2 linked regions of the Homo sapiens genome follow. The main gene of each other region encodes a partner of the protein of the gene in region 2 in a complex. Links are inferred from orthologs where the notes say so. Each region holds a gene or a part of one and is shown on either strand. Other genes may lie near its edges.

Region 1 (7,020 bases), on a different chromosome or scaffold from region 2:
CAGCTACTCAGGAGGCTGAGGTGGGAGGATCACCTGAGCCTGGGAGGTGGAGGCTGCAGTGAGATGTGATCGCGCCACTGTACTTCAGCCTGGGTGCCAGAGTAAGACTGTCTCAAAAGAAAAAAAGAAAGAAAAGAAACCATTGAAGTATACACTTTAAATCACTGGATTATATGGTATGTACGTTATTTCACAATAAAGCTGTTTTATTTTTAAAGTGAGTATATTCAATGCAGAAAATTTTTGGAAAAACTGAAAGATGATAAAAGGAAAAAATACCCATCATTAATACCCTGTGTATTTTTGTATCTTCCCTCCCAGTCTCTTTTCTGAAAATACTATATATTAATAGATATTTTAATACATTATGTATATATTCCTCCCCACCCCAGGAAAGGTTATAATGTAATATTGCTTTGTAATCTGCTTTTAAAAGTTTCTTAATTTACAAGTAACACCTGGTCATTGTAGAAGGAATAGAAAATGCTCAAAAGCAGAAAGTAAACCGAAGTCACCCAGAATCCTCCCACCCAGGAAAGCCACTGTTAACCACTATTTCACACACACGTATTCCTGTTTCTTTTTTTTTTTAACGGGGCTAGACAAATTCTAACAGAGCTGTAACACTACACACTTCTTTTTCTAAGGACGGGTCATCAGGCATTGCTTTGCTGGCCATTCCCCAAGCCCTCTGTCCACGGGAGAGCTCCCCGCAACTCCCCACCCCCCACCCCAACCCTGCCCAGGAGGGAGGACTGCAGGGCCTCCTCCCACACCCTGCCCAGAGGAGCTGGAGCGGAGGCCAGAATACAGCAGGCGCCAATAAAGGCTTTCCAAAGGGCACCAGAGGCCTGACCTGCCTCTCCACTGCCCGCAGCCCTGTTCGTCTTCTGTACCAAGAGCCGACGTGCTGAGCGTTACTGGCAGAAGACGCTGCTGCAGATGGAGGAGATGGAATCTCAGATCCGAGAGGAAATCCGCAAAGGTAGTGGGCGGGGACCCTGCAGGGCTGGGCCTCAACTTTCCCTCCTAGGGGATGGGTTCTCGGGCCGCTCACGGCTGTCCGTGTGTCCGCCAGGCTTCGCTGAGCTGCAGACAGACATGACAGATCTCACCAAGGAGCTGAACCGCAGCCAGGGCATCCCCTTCCTGGAGTATAAGCACTTCGTGACCCGCACCTTCTTCCCCAAGGTCAGCCCGAGCCTGAGCCTGCCCTGAACCTGTGCCAGCCACCTCAAGGCAACTCGACCTCTCTGAGCCCTGCCAGCCTATAGGGTCCCTTGAGCAGTGCCAAACCTGCACAGCTGTCCGCAGCCGTCCTGGCCACTTGCCCTGGCCTGCCACGGGGAGAAGGGTTGGAGGCAGATTCTCCACTGTCATTCTCTGCTCACTTGATGTTTAACAGTCCATATGGAAGCCAGCTGCAGCCCCGCTGTCCTGGCCAGCTGGGCCTGCCTCTCCCCTTTTCAAGGTGGGGCAGAAGCGGCCAGGGCTGTCCCAGGCCAGCCTCTCTCCTTCCTGTGCCTCTTCCCAGCCAGGCTTCCCTTGGTCTCTACACTCCCTCCTCCTGTCCACTGGACTCCTGCCCCATCCCTTCCATGCCTCTCATGCCTCCCCTTGCCCTTCCAGGGTCCACTACCCTCACTCTACCTCCTAGTGGTACCACCCTCTCTCCCCTGTCCACACCATTCCCCACACAGTGGCCAAAGCAAGCCCATGTTTGACTACATCATTTTTCACGAAACCCTCCAGTAGCTTTTCCCAGCCTCAGGCTAAAGCTCAGACTCCCAGCCTTTCTGCCTCAGTTTCCCCCATTGCACATGGAGCTGCTTTTGCTTCCCCTTAAGTCTTGTGCTGTCTTGTGTGGCCACACCCCTGGAATTCCACAGCCCCCAGGCTTGGCCCACTGCCTCTTAGTCCTTTATGGGGAGCTAATTCCGTGCCAGTTTCCCCCAGCAGCCCAAGCCAGTGCCCCTTTCTGTGTGAGTGACCTTTCCATGCCAGCAGGGGGTGTCCAGCCCCGCTGAGATGCTGGGGGTCTGCCTCTGCAGTGTTCCTCCCTTTATGAAGAGCGTTACGTGCTGCCCTCCCAGACCCTCAACTCCCAGGGCAGCTCCCAGGCACAGGAAACCCACCCACTGCTGGGAGAGTGGAAGGTGAGTACCCCACGACCCACACACAGTGGGCTGCTTCAGGGCAACCCTGCTCCCCCCTGGGTCCCCTTTCCAGTTCATCTAATGCATTGATCCCTGTCATGCGGAGTTGGGAGGCATCTGCCATTGTAAGGTACTGAGCCCTCCATCCCAGGAGGCATTCAGGCAGCCATTCAGGGTATTATAAGTGCTGCCCCCGCAGGCCAGGTAGAGCAGACAGAGGATTGGGCCCCCCTGTACACCCCACTCAACCTGCTTAGAAAATGGAAGGTGAGAGTCCTCCACACTGGGATGCCAGGTTACCTCCAGGCACCCTTACCCTTCTCTGAGCCCCACTTTTCAATTCAACCAAGCTATTGTTCCCTGTCACAAAGGTTAGGAGGCATCCACCGTGGAAGGTAATGAGCTCCCCATCCCAGGAGGCATACAAGCAGCCGTCGTAAGCACTGGCTGTTAGGCTAGGCAGGGACACTGGGCCCCTCTGGACACCCCATCACCAGTTGCTTCCACAGATTCCTGAGAGCTGCCGGCCCAACATGGAAGAGGGAATTAGCTTGTTCTCCTCACTACTCAACAACAAGCACTTCCTCATCGTCTTTGTCCACGCGCTGGAGCAGCAGAAGGACTTTGCGGTGCGCGACAGGTCAGGCTGTGACAGACTGGGGTGGGGTAGGGAAGAGGAGCCTGTCCAAGGCCACACAGCATCAGGTCCTGGGTCCTGGGGCTCTGGGGCTCTTGACACCCCCATATTCCAGCCCTTCCTGGGCCGGGATGCCCAAGACCTTGGCTCACGGGGCACGATGGTTGCTGTGGACGTAGAAGAAGGTGGCTGTTTCTCCAGGAGGATTCTAGCCCCACTCACCCCTCGCAGGACCCACCCACACAGGCACTCCTGGGATCGATGGGCCCGGGGATGAGGCGGCACTGAGACCCTGGGACCCACAGCTCCTAGGGCCTCAAGGTGCAGTTGACACCTGCCTCCCGCTCACAGGTGCAGCCTGGCCTCGCTGCTGACCATCGCGCTGCACGGCAAGCTGGAGTACTACACCAGCATCATGAAGGAGCTGCTGGTGGACCTCATTGACGCCTCGGCCGCCAAGAACCCCAAGCTCATGCTGCGGCGCACAGAGTCTGTGGTGGAGAAGATGCTCACCAACTGGATGTCCATCTGCATGTACAGCTGTCTGCGGGTGAGGCTGCCTGGGGACAGACAGAGCCCAGGCGGGGGACGTGGCAGGGACTCAGCGGCAGTGACCCCACGGCCTCCCAGGCCTTCCCTGGCACCCTCAGGCCAGCTCTGCCAGGAGGGAGTGTTGCATGAGACAGGCCAGGCCCGTAGGACCTGTTATGCAGAGAGGGGAGCCATGGCCCCGGGGAAGCCTGGCTGGCTTGCTGCAAGGGCTCAACGGATGCTTGGGGCATAACAGAGGTTGTGTCAGGGGCCTTGTCCCATCTGTGGTTTTCTCAGTCATCCACCCTTCCCTGCTCTGGATTCAGGAGATGAAATCAGCCCCTGGCTGGCCCTTGAGGCTCTCCCAGCCCTAGGCTAGGCGAGACGTGGAAACAAAATACAGGGTGGCCAGTGCCTCGCAGCAGAGCTCAGCTCACGAGGCCTCCCTCTGTCTGAAGGCTTCAAGGTGGCTTCCTGGAGCAGGCAACCCTGTGCTGAGACCTAAGAGAGTGAGCCAGGCGAGGAGTGGTGGGGAGGGTGCTCCAGGCATCGGGTACAGCACAAGGGCAGAGGCCGGGAGGAGGGGATGTTCGTGGAAGGAATAGAAGGAAGGCCAAAGAATCTTCTGGATGAGAGCGGAGGCTGGGAAGAGGGTGGGCCCGGTAACCAGGGCCTCCTGCACTCTGCCAGAAGGACCCCCATAAGCTCTCTTCGCAGAGCAAGGGTTGCTTAGCCTCTTGTCCTGTCCCACTGTCCAGCTGCCCTATGGTGGCAGAGGCTAGAGGGCTGCCTGGAGGATTGTGGGAGAAAGGCAAAGGCCTGCCTGGAGCCCAGAACCGGGGCCTCGGATGTTCTGTTTTTTGTTATTAATTTTTGAAGAGATGGGGGTCTTGCTTTGTTGCACAGGCTGGTCCCAAACTCCTGAGCTCAAGCAATCCTCCCGCTTTGGCCTCCCAAAGTGCTGGGATTACAGGGGTGAGCCACTGCACCCAGCCAAGATGTCCTGGGCTTGAGTCCAATCTTTGGCACAGCCCAGCTGTGTGACTCTGGGCTACTCATTGCCCTCTGTGGGCCTTGGTTTCCTTCTGTCAAATGGGGCCTCTGCCCCTGAGCCTGGGGCTTGAGGGCCAAGTAGCCTGGGGGAGCCCCACGGCTCCTCCTGGGGGAAGGGGGTAGTGGGGTGGAGCAGAGGCAGGGCCTGGGAGGGGCCATTGGGGTGCCTCCGCCTTCTGCGGGCTGCCTCACTGTGGGCCATCAGGAACCACAAGGGCCACTGTGGACCCTGGACCTCACTCCCCTGGCTTCTTTCTGTGGCCTCAGCCAGGCCTTCCCCTATGAGCCTGTTTCCTCCTCTAGGAAGCAGGGAATCAGTGCCTCCCACGCCCCAGACCTGGAGAATTGGACCAGGACTTGGGCTGGCAGGCTGCCTTCGTAATCTTTGCCAAATCTGCCTAATACTATTATGTACTTAATTTTTCTTTAAATCAATTTTTGTGGATAGTTAAGTAAAACTATCCCAGTGGAACACCTGGGTCCCTTGCTGGGCAATGGCCTTGAGAATCAGCTCATGGCTGTGGGTCCAGCAGAGCCACTGCCTGGAGGGCCACCCTTGGAGATGGGCAAGAGCAGGGACATTGAGCCCCATTCCTCCTGAGACTCCATAGTCATCAGCCTGCAAGTGGGGTCGAGGCCACATCGGTGTTTCGGGTCCACCTAAACTCACACTTGGGGGCCCCCCACTTAGTAGAAAGTCACAGGCTTGGGAGTCAGCCGAGCCAGGTCCGATTCCTGCCCTGCCGCTTCCCAGCTGGGTGATCTTGGGCAGGTCACTTGCCCTCTCTGAGCCTCGGCACTGTTGGCTGCACAGTAAGAATGATACTCCGTATCCGGAAGGGTTGCCGGGATGATGCAATGAATGCACCCACCCACAGCTGGTGGTGTTTAATGAACACGAGCTTAGGGTCCGTGGAGACACCCTGGAGAGGAGAGTGTTGACACCAGGATCCAAAAGGAGACTGTTGGAGGGGTTGGGGGACGGGGGCGTGAAGGTGTTTGGCCCAAAGCATGGGGGCTGGAATACAGAGGGGGCCTTGGCCCTGATACCCCCGTGCCCCTCAGGAGACGGTGGGGGAGCCATTCTTCCTGCTGCTGTGTGCCATCAAGCAGCAAATCAACAAGGGCTCCATCGACGCCATCACAGGCAAGGCCCGCTACACACTCAGTGAGGAGTGGCTGCTGCGGGAGAACATCGAGGCCAAGCCCCGGGTAAGTCGGCAGGGCGGGGAGGGTCCCAGGGCTGCTGTGTCGCCGCCAACGGCATTGACCCAGCCTTCCTCTGCAGGGCCTTGCTGCCTGGGCACTGACATAGTGATGGCAGCAACTCACTGACCTTTCTCTCCCACTCTCCCCCTGCAGAACCTGAACGTGTCCTTCCAGGGCTGTGGCATGGACTCGCTGAGCGTGCGGGCCATGGACACCGACACGCTGACACAGGTCAAGGAGAAGATCCTGGAGGCCTTCTGCAAGAATGTGCCCTACTCCCAGTGGCCGCGTGCAGAGGACGTCGACCTTGGTGGGTGGGAATGGGGGCAGAGACCCCGTGTCAGGCGCTTCAGCCGGGGCTGGCCCCTGCCTTGACGGGAAACACTCCTTTCACCTGGCATGGGTGCATGAATGTGGGGACACTGAGAGGATCCAATGAGGCCCCCTCAGCAAGAAGCTCTTACTCTGTAGGAGACAAGTCCTGCAGTGTGAGTGAACTACGGACAACAGCAAAAAGCCTTCAGGAAAGGCTTCCTAATTCCTAAAGGAGGGATGCTGGAGTAGGGTTGGTTTGTTTGTTTGTTTTTGAGACGGGATCTCATTCTGTCACCCAGGCTGGAGTGCAGTGGCGCAATCTCAGCTCACTGCAGCCTCGACCTCCTGGGCTCAAGTGATCCCCTCATTTCAGCCTCCTGAGTAGCTGGGACTACAGGAGTGCACCACCACATCCAGCTAATTTTACTTTTTGTAAAGATAGTGTCATGCTGTGCTGCCCAGGCTGGTCTTGAACTCCTGGGCTCAAGCGATCCTCCTGCCTCATCCTCCCAAAGTGCTGGGATTACAGGTGTGAGCCACCGCGCGGGGCCTGGAGTGGGTTTTATAGGAGTCTTGGTTAGGCCAAGGGTTTCATCAGCAATTGTAACATGAACAGCCTTGCAGACAAGGCCATTTCCAGAGCTCCTCCTCTGTGCCCTCCACCCTGGCACCTTCTCTTTGTACCCTCACACTCTCCCCCAGCTCTTTCCTGCCCTCCCCATTTTACAGATGGGAAAATGGAGGCTCAGAGAGAGGTATGGCTTGCCTCAGTTTACATGGAGAGAGCGAGAGGCCTCTCCCTATGTGGCTGGGCCGGTACCTACCCCTCAGGCCCAGCTCCCTGCCCGGACCCTGATGGCCTGTCCCTTGTCCCCCAGAGTGGTTCGCCTCCAGCACACAGAGCTACATCCTTCGGGACCTGGACGACACCTCAGTGGTGGAAGACGGCCGCAAGAAGCTTAACACGCTGGCCCATTACAAGGTGCAGCCCTGCCCCCCGCCCCCATTTCCCCACCCTCATGCCCCCACCCCAACCTCCGGCCTCTGACCTCGGCCTCTCCCCTCCCATCAGATCCCTGAAGGTGCCTCCCTGGCCATGAGTCTCATAGACAAGAAGGA
Region 2 (7,571 bases):
CACGAGGTCAGGAGATCAAGACCATCCTGGCTAACACGGTGAAGCCCCGTCTCTACTAAAAATACAAAAAATTAGCCATACATGGTGGCGGGCGCCTCTAGTCCCAGCTACTCGGGAGGCTGAGGCAGGAGAATGGCATGAACCTGGGAGGCAGAGCTTGCAGTGAGCCAAGATCGTGCCACTGCACTCCAGCCTGGGAGACAGAGCGAGACTCCGTCTCAAAAAAAAAAAAAAAAAAGGAAACTGTGGAAGAGTCAGGTGCGGTGGCTCACTCATGCCTGCAATCCCAGCACTCTGGGAGGCCAAAGCGTGCGGATTACTTGAGGCCAGGAGTTCAAAACCAGTCTGGACAACATGGTGAAACCCGGTCTTCACTAAAAAATACAAAAAATTAGCTAGGCATGGTGACACATGCCTCTAATCCCAGCTACTCGGGAGGCTGAGGCGTGAGAATCGCTTGAGCCTGCGAGGTGGAGGTTGCAGTGAGTTGAGATCACATCACTGCACTCCAGCATGGGTGACAGAGTGAGACTCTGTTTCAAAAAAAAAATAAAGAAAATGTGGAAGTATAAGTTTGCCATATAGGGATGAAAAGGCCTTCTTTTGTTTTGTTTTGGGAGATAGGGTCTTGCTCAGTCACCCAGGCTAGAATGCAGTGGTGTGATCATAGCTTACTGTAGGCTTGAACTCCTGGGCTCAAGTGATCCTCCCACCTCAGCCTCCTGAGTAGCTGGGACTATAGTCCAGTGCCTCCTTTTCTGGCTAATTTTTATTATTTTTTGTAGAGACAGGGTCTCATTATGTTACCCAGGCTGGTCTTGAACTCCTGGTGTCAAGCAATCCACCTGCCTCAGCCTCCCAAAGTGCTGGGATTACAGGCATGAGCTAGTGTGCCCAGCCAAGCATTCTTAATATAACTTCACAGTGAGTTCTATTATATCAAAATTAAGAATTTCCCTCCAATGAAGGATATCATGGGTGAAGCAAATTTTCCCCTGACAGAGTGGGAGGACAAATATACAATGTGTAAAACTGCACCTAGGTCATCAGGAGAGTTACATGGTTTAATAAATAGGAAGTTCTTGGAATGATGCCTGGCACATAGGAAGCTGTAGCTCATAGCTCACTGTAGCCTCGACTCCTGGGCTCAAGTGATCCTCCTGCCTCAGCCTCCCGAGTAGCTGGGACTACAGGCACACAGCACCACACCCATTTTTGTAGAGATGGAGGTCTTGCTATGTTGCCTCGGCTAGTCTCGAACTCCTGCCCTCAAGGGATCCTTTCAGCCTCAGCCTCCAAGTCACTGGGATTAGAGGCTGCAGCCACTGCACTCAGCAAAACAATGATGTTCTAACGCACACAACCTTCCCTTCTGCATGTGTTAGCTGGCATTCAAGGATGGAATTTTTTTCTTTTTTCTGTTTTTTCTTTTTCTTTTTTTTTTTTTTTTTTTGAGACGGAGTCTCGTTCTGTTGCCCAGGCTGGAGGGCAGTGGCGCAATCTCGGCTCACTGCCAGCTCCGCCTCCCGGGTTCACACCATTCTCCTGCCTCAGCCTCCTGAGTAGCTGGGACTACAGGCGCCCACCATCACACCCAGCTAATTTTTGTATTTTTAGTAGAGACGAGGTTTCACCATGTTGGCCAGGCTGGTCTCGAACTCCTGACCTTGTGATCCGCCCGCCTCACCCTCCCAATGTGTTGGGATTACAGGCGTGAGCCATTGCACCCGGCCTCTTTTTTCTTTTAAAGGAACAGAGGTAGCGCTCACATCTAAGCTGCTCACCATTGGACTTCCCAGCCTCAGCTTTTAGGCATTCCTCTTGAGCTATAAAATCGGGAAGGAGGGCTGGGCATGGTGGCTCACACCTGTAATCCCAGCACTTTTGGGAGGCCAAAGAGGGAGGATGGCTTGAGCCCAGGAGTTCAAGACCAGCTCTGTGCAACATGGTGAGACCCTGTCTCTATCAAAAAACAAACAAATGGGCCTGGCACAGTGACTCATGCCTGTAATCCCAGCATTTTGAGAGGATGAGGCAGTTGGATCACTTGAGGCCAGGAGTTCGAGACCGGCCTGGCCAACAGGATGAAACCCTGTCTCTACTAAAAATACAAAACTAGCCAGATGTGGTGGCGGGTGCCTGTAATCCCAGCTAATCAGGAGGTTGAGGCAGGAGAATCGCTTGAACCTGGGAGGTGGAGGTTGCAGTGAGCCGAGATTGCGCCATTGCACTCCAGCCTGGGCAACAAGAGTGGAACTCTGTCTCAAAACAAACAAACAGACAAACAAAGGAATAGACTGCGTGCAGTGGCTCATGCCTGTAATCCCAGCATTTCAGGAGGACGAGGCAGGTGGATCACTTGAGGCCAGGAGTTCGAGACCAGCCTGGCCAACATGGCGAAACCCCGTCTCTTTTAAAAATACAAAAAATTTAGCCGAGCATGATGGCGCACGCTGTAATCCCAGCTACTCAGGAGACTGAGGCGTGAGAATTGCTCGAACCTGAGAAGCGGAGGTTGCAGTAAGCTGAGATTGCACCACTGCACTGCAGCCTGGGTGACAGAGTGAGGCTCCGTCTCAAAAAAACAAACAAACAAACAACAACAACAACAAAAATTAGCCAGGTGTGGTGGTACATGCCTGTGGTCCCAGCTACTCGGTAGGCTAAGATGGGAGGATTACTTGAGCCTAGGAGGTGGAGGTTGCAGTGAGCTGAGATCCTGCCACTGCATTCCAGCCTGGCCAACGGAGCTAGACACTGTCTCAAAAAAAAAAAAAAAAAAATTCAGAAAGGAGGTGCCCAGTGCTGCTCTGTGTCTTGAGCAATCCCACAATCCCATCACCCCTTCTCCGGGCACTTCCTCATCAGGAAACAGGAGCCAGTTGGAGTCTGGCTCAGGACTCTGCAGCCTCAGTCATGCTGTCCCCTGGGCTCAGCATCCCGTCCTCTCCAAGTGTGCAGGGGGCAGCTTAGATGCCAGGCTCAAGCAGGGCAGGCAGCACAGTCCCACAGAGGGTACTGGCCAGCCCAGGCAACTGATTGCTCAGTGGGATGGCAGAGGTCAGCAGAACAGGAAGGGACGGACAATAGCTGTGCCTGTTGCCTGGCCTGCCACAGCAATCTCGGTGTTTGCCAGCTGGGTGGGGCTGGCTAGGCAATCCTCAGCAGCAAAGCTCAAGGTTCCATCTCCCATTTTAGTTTGCCCCTCTGCAGGTCCTGGTGGGACTGATATGCACAACATCTCACCCTGGGAACTGCAAAGAACCAGTCTTTCTATGGAGCTTGAGCAGGGTCTCAGCACTTAGAGGCTTCCAGGAACTACAGTTCCCAGAACACACAGCATTCAGCCCCAGTTGCTGTCCAAGTGGCTGGGTTTGAACTAGAACAAGGAAATCTCACTTGTCCCGGGAACTGAGCGTCCTGGCCTGGTCCAGGTGCATTTGTGACTCTTGTTTCTTGGATCTGTGTCCACCTGATAAATCCCCCTTCCTTATAAACTACATGGTCTATTTGTCCACACAGGTTTGCTGAGAACCTGCCGTGTGGCAGCCTGAGGTGGGAGTGAGGGGTTGACAAGAGAGACTCAGCCTCCACCCTCACAGTCAGATGGAGGAGACAGATCTATGAAAGGCTGGCTGGGTACCTTCTGTGACCTAGCACATAAACAAACCAACAAGCAGATAAACTATCTCACCCTTGTCTTTCATTGCATCTTGCCTTTCCACACTGATTTACTAGCTCCCACGATATTGCAGTATCCTAAAGCGTGCTGTATCTCTCTGTCCGGCTTTTGCACGCTCTGTTACCTCTACCAGGAGCACATTCAGCTTATTCACTGACGCGTCTTCAGAGGTAGGACAGAGTCTGGCACGGAGCAGTCTGGCACATTAAATATTTGATGAGTGAGTGAACGAATGAATGAATGAATGCCTTTGTCCATTGTACAGCCCAGGAAGCAGGGAAACTCGGGACCCTCCCTATTCATCTCGATCCCCCGCCCGCCCCCAGAGATTGAATGCATCTTTTTATCCGCTCCGAGGATGGCCAGGCTGGGGCAGAGGAGGCCGGGCAGGGAACTGGGTTGGGGACTGCCATTGACCCCCACCCAGGTCTCCTAAACTGTCCGCTTTCCTGGACGTCGGAAGTTCGAATCCTTTCCCCGAAACCTGGCCTAGGTCACCTGACTCCCCCGCCCCTCACCACCCAGGGCACCCGAGACTGACACTCAGCCGACAGCACGTGGTTCAGGGGCCCCAGCTTCCTTCCCATTGGCCGCTTGTCTCCTTCCTCCCTCGCGATTGGCCGGGGCCCAGCTGCAGCTCCCCCCCCTCCTCAGCCCTCCGGTGGTACAGCCAGCCGCGGCTTAGGCGGGGCGGAACGGTCCACTGCTTCGCGGCGAGGGGAGGAGTCGGGAAGAGCCGGGCGAGGCGGAGGGATCCCTCTGGAATGTTTCCGTCGGGTCCACCCGAAGCGGAAGACGCGGATTGGCTGCGAGCACCGAGAGGCAGCCGCTGATTGGCCGGCCGCGGGCGTCGGCCCCGCCCCCCAGGCGCCGCTGCGGGAGAGGCCCGGTCTGGAGTTTGCGGAGGGCCGAGCCGGGTGCGCACGGGGAGGCGGAGGCAGCGGCGGCGGCGGCGGCGGCGGCGGCGGCGGCGGAGCAGGTGAGTGGCCTCTGCGAGAAGGATGTGTCTGCTCCGGGGGCCTCGGGGGTCGCGGGCCTGCGAGGATCCGGCCGATCCTGCAGGGTGGGGCCGGCGCCGTGGACGCGACTGGAGGTCTAGGCTGCGCGCGGGGATGCCGGAGGCCCCTTCCCAGGGGAAGCGGGGGTGGGGGGTGGTGGGGGCAGCTCCCTTCCTGCTGGCGGGCAGGGGACAAACGCCTCCCAACGCTGGGCTGGGGTTTCTGGGCTTGCCCCTCCCCCCGTCCCCCGGCTGGACTGTCCCCATCCCAGCGTGGACAGGCGCGGGGTCAGTGTTTCTGACCCTTTCCTGGGCACTTCCCCTGAGCTAACCGCGTCTGAACCCTCCAGGGCCTTGGGGGGGACGCAGTGAGGACCACGGTCTGAATAATAATCGTCATGAAAAACTCCACCTCAGCTAGCATTTATTGGAGAGCTTCCGTGTCAGGCATTTACCATGAGGATAATTGACTCTAAACACCTCATGGGAGGTGCTGTGCCTTCTTGTAAAAAAGGTGAGGCAGCCTACCCAGAGAGGTGGAGTGACTTGCCCAAGGTCACACAGCTAGTAACTGGCACATCTGGGACTGGAACTCATGCCCCAGGGTCCAGAACTGGAGTCACACCCACTAGACTGGATACCAATAACTCCACGGCTCAGTTGTTGCTGAGTAGCTCCGGCCCCCTACCCCTCCCACCCCCTACCCCGTACTCATCATCAGGGCCACACCTGCTGGTCTTTTGCTTTACCAGCCACTCAAACAGGAAGCTGCCCTCCTTTCCCTTCTCCCCAGAGCTGGAGAGGGCAGGTCTAACTACCTGGGTCCAGAGAAGAGAGTGGCGTCTGCAGGGGGCCAGGATGCTGGGGTCTGGGCCCACTGGGTTCCCCCCTGGCAACCTGGGCCGAGGCTGGGAAGTAGGCGTTCTCCCCGGAAACACCCAGGAGCCGGTTTTTCAAGAGTGAATCAGAGGCCTCTTTCCCTCCTTCTCTCCAAAGCAACACTGTGCTGGAACGGGGAGCCTGGGCGTGGTTTCCCCCTTCCCCTAGCTTCTGTGTGCTCCCAGGAACCCCCTTCCCCTCCTCCTGCTGGCCACACTGCTTCTGTGTGGCCGTGGGGTTGCTAAGTTTCAGGCCCTTCCCAGGATGAGGGGGTGAGGATGCTGAAATTCCAGCCCAAACACTCAATATCCGGGCTGAAGTGGCTCTTCATCTCTGTGTTCAGGTGTGAGGGGAGCCAGGGAAAGTGGGGAGCCTAGGACAGTTGGCAACCGCACAGCAGGCATGTTTAGGGGGCTGTTTCAAGGATGGGGAGCACAGAGAGCAATCAGAACGAGGACCTGAGACACATTCATTCACTCAGTCTACAAATATTTAGTGAGCACCTGCTACGTGCATGTGCTAGGCACTGTTCTTGGCACAGAAAATGCAACAGTGAACAAAACAAAATCCCTACTTTTGAGGAGTTGGCACTCTGAAAGGAAGGAAGCAGCCAACAAACAAGTTAGCAAGTAAATAAAGAAGATAATTTCAGATGGCACTAACTGCTATGAATAAAATATGAGCGGGTGGTACTGTAGAGAGTAGTTGTGGGCAAGGGGTGCCAGCCCAGCAAAGATCAGGCAAGGGGGCCCGGGCGCGGTGGCTCACGCCTGTAATCCCAGCACTTTGGGAGGCCGAGGCGGGTGGGTTGCTTGAGGTCAGGAGTTTGAGACCAGCCTGGCCAACATGGGGAAACCCTGTCTCTACTAAAAATACAAAAATTGGCTAGGGGCATGGCTCACCCCTGTAATCCCAGCACTTTGGGAGGCTGAGACAGGTGGGTCAAGAGGTCAGGAGTTTGAGACCAGCCTGATCAACATGGTGAAACCCCCTCTCTCCTAAAAATATGAAAATTAGCTGGGTGTGGTGGCGCACGCCTGTAAGCCCAGCTACTCAGGAGGCTGAGGCAGGAGAATCGCTTGAACCCGGGAGGCGGAGGTTGCAGTGAGCTGAGATCGTGCCACTGCACTCCAGCCTGGGCTACAGAGCGAGACTCCATCTCAAAAAAAAATAAAAATAGGCCAGGCGTGGTGGCTTATGCCTGTAATCCCAGCACTTTGGGAGGCCGAGGCAGGCAGATCACCTGAGGTCAGGAGTTCAAGACCAGCCTGACCAACATGGAGAAACCCTGTCTCTACTAAAAATATAAAATAAGCTGGGCGTGGTGGCACATGCCTGTAATCACAGCTACATGGGAGGCTGAGGCAGGAGAGAATCGCTTGAACCCGGTAGGCAGAGGTTGCGGTGAGCCAAGATCGCGCCATTGCACTCCAACCTGGGCAACAAGAATGAAACTCCGTCTCAAAAATAAATAAATAAATAAAAATAAACAAATACAAAATAAAAATACAAAAATTAGCCGGATGTGGTGGTGCGTGCCTGTAATCCCAGCTACTCAGGAGGCTAGGGCAGAAGAATCGTTTGAACCCAGGAGGTGGAGGTTGCAGTGAGCTGAGATGGCGCCACTGCACTCCAACCTGGGTGACAGAGCAAGACTCCATCTCGAAAAAAAAAAAAGAGAGAGAGATGGGCAAGGCCAAGGTCTTTAGGCTGGACCAAGTTTGGAATCACATGGTTGGAGCAGAAGATGAACCCAGAGCAGCGATTCTGCAGGGGTTTGTGGGTCACAGTAAGGAGATTGCAGTTTTTCTTCCAGAAGGTGGGAAACTGTTGTAAAGTTTCAGGCAGGGCAGTGATGCCATCTGGTTTACGTTTTAAAATAGAGACATGAAGTTAAATGACAGCCTGAAGCTGGAAGACAAGAGTTCTGCCAGGGCAGCATGCAATTAAGTTCATGGGCCTGAGCCATCTGTACCACAGGGGCAGTTCCAGCATGCTGGGGCAAGCCTGGGA

Evidence for each region. Proteins that work in one complex are often made in the same cells at the same time.
Region 1: the proteins of GIPC1 (region 2) and PLXND1 are in contact, whole or in part, in a crystal structure (PDB 5V6T), measured with the Mus musculus proteins. The link is inferred for Homo sapiens from one-to-one orthologs. Residues at the interface, in NP_061241.1 of Mus musculus: His61, Glu141, Ala142, Leu143, Gly144, Leu145, Thr146, Ile147, Thr148, Asp149, Asn150, Gly151, Phe156, Lys158, Arg159, Arg190, His191, Tyr192, Glu193, Ala195, Arg196, Leu198, Lys199; in NP_080652.2 of Mus musculus: Glu1400, Met1889, Glu1893, Arg1899, Gln1902, Gln1904, His1905, Glu1908, Ile1918, Tyr1919, Cys1921, Tyr1922, Ser1923, Glu1924, Ala1925.

Annotation. Positions count from the first base shown.
Region 1 is NC_000003.12:129,561,663-129,568,682, reverse strand, and holds part of PLXND1 (plexin-D1 precursor), read left to right. Parts: intron 1-877; coding exon 878-985; intron 986-1,078; coding exon 1,079-1,191; intron 1,192-2,051; coding exon 2,052-2,156; intron 2,157-2,665; coding exon 2,666-2,796; intron 2,797-3,144; coding exon 3,145-3,343; intron 3,344-5,442; coding exon 5,443-5,589; intron 5,590-5,739; coding exon 5,740-5,896; intron 5,897-6,779; coding exon 6,780-6,883; intron 6,884-6,973; coding exon 6,974-7,020. UniProt on the Homo sapiens protein: Cell surface receptor for SEMA4A and for class 3 semaphorins, such as SEMA3A, SEMA3C and SEMA3E. Plays an important role in cell-cell signaling, and in regulating the migration of a wide spectrum of cell types.
Region 2 is NC_000019.10:14,493,127-14,500,697, reverse strand, and holds the start of GIPC1 (PDZ domain-containing protein GIPC1), read left to right. Parts: upstream 1-4,570; 5' UTR 4,571-4,661; intron 4,662-7,571. UniProt on the Homo sapiens protein: May be involved in G protein-linked signaling.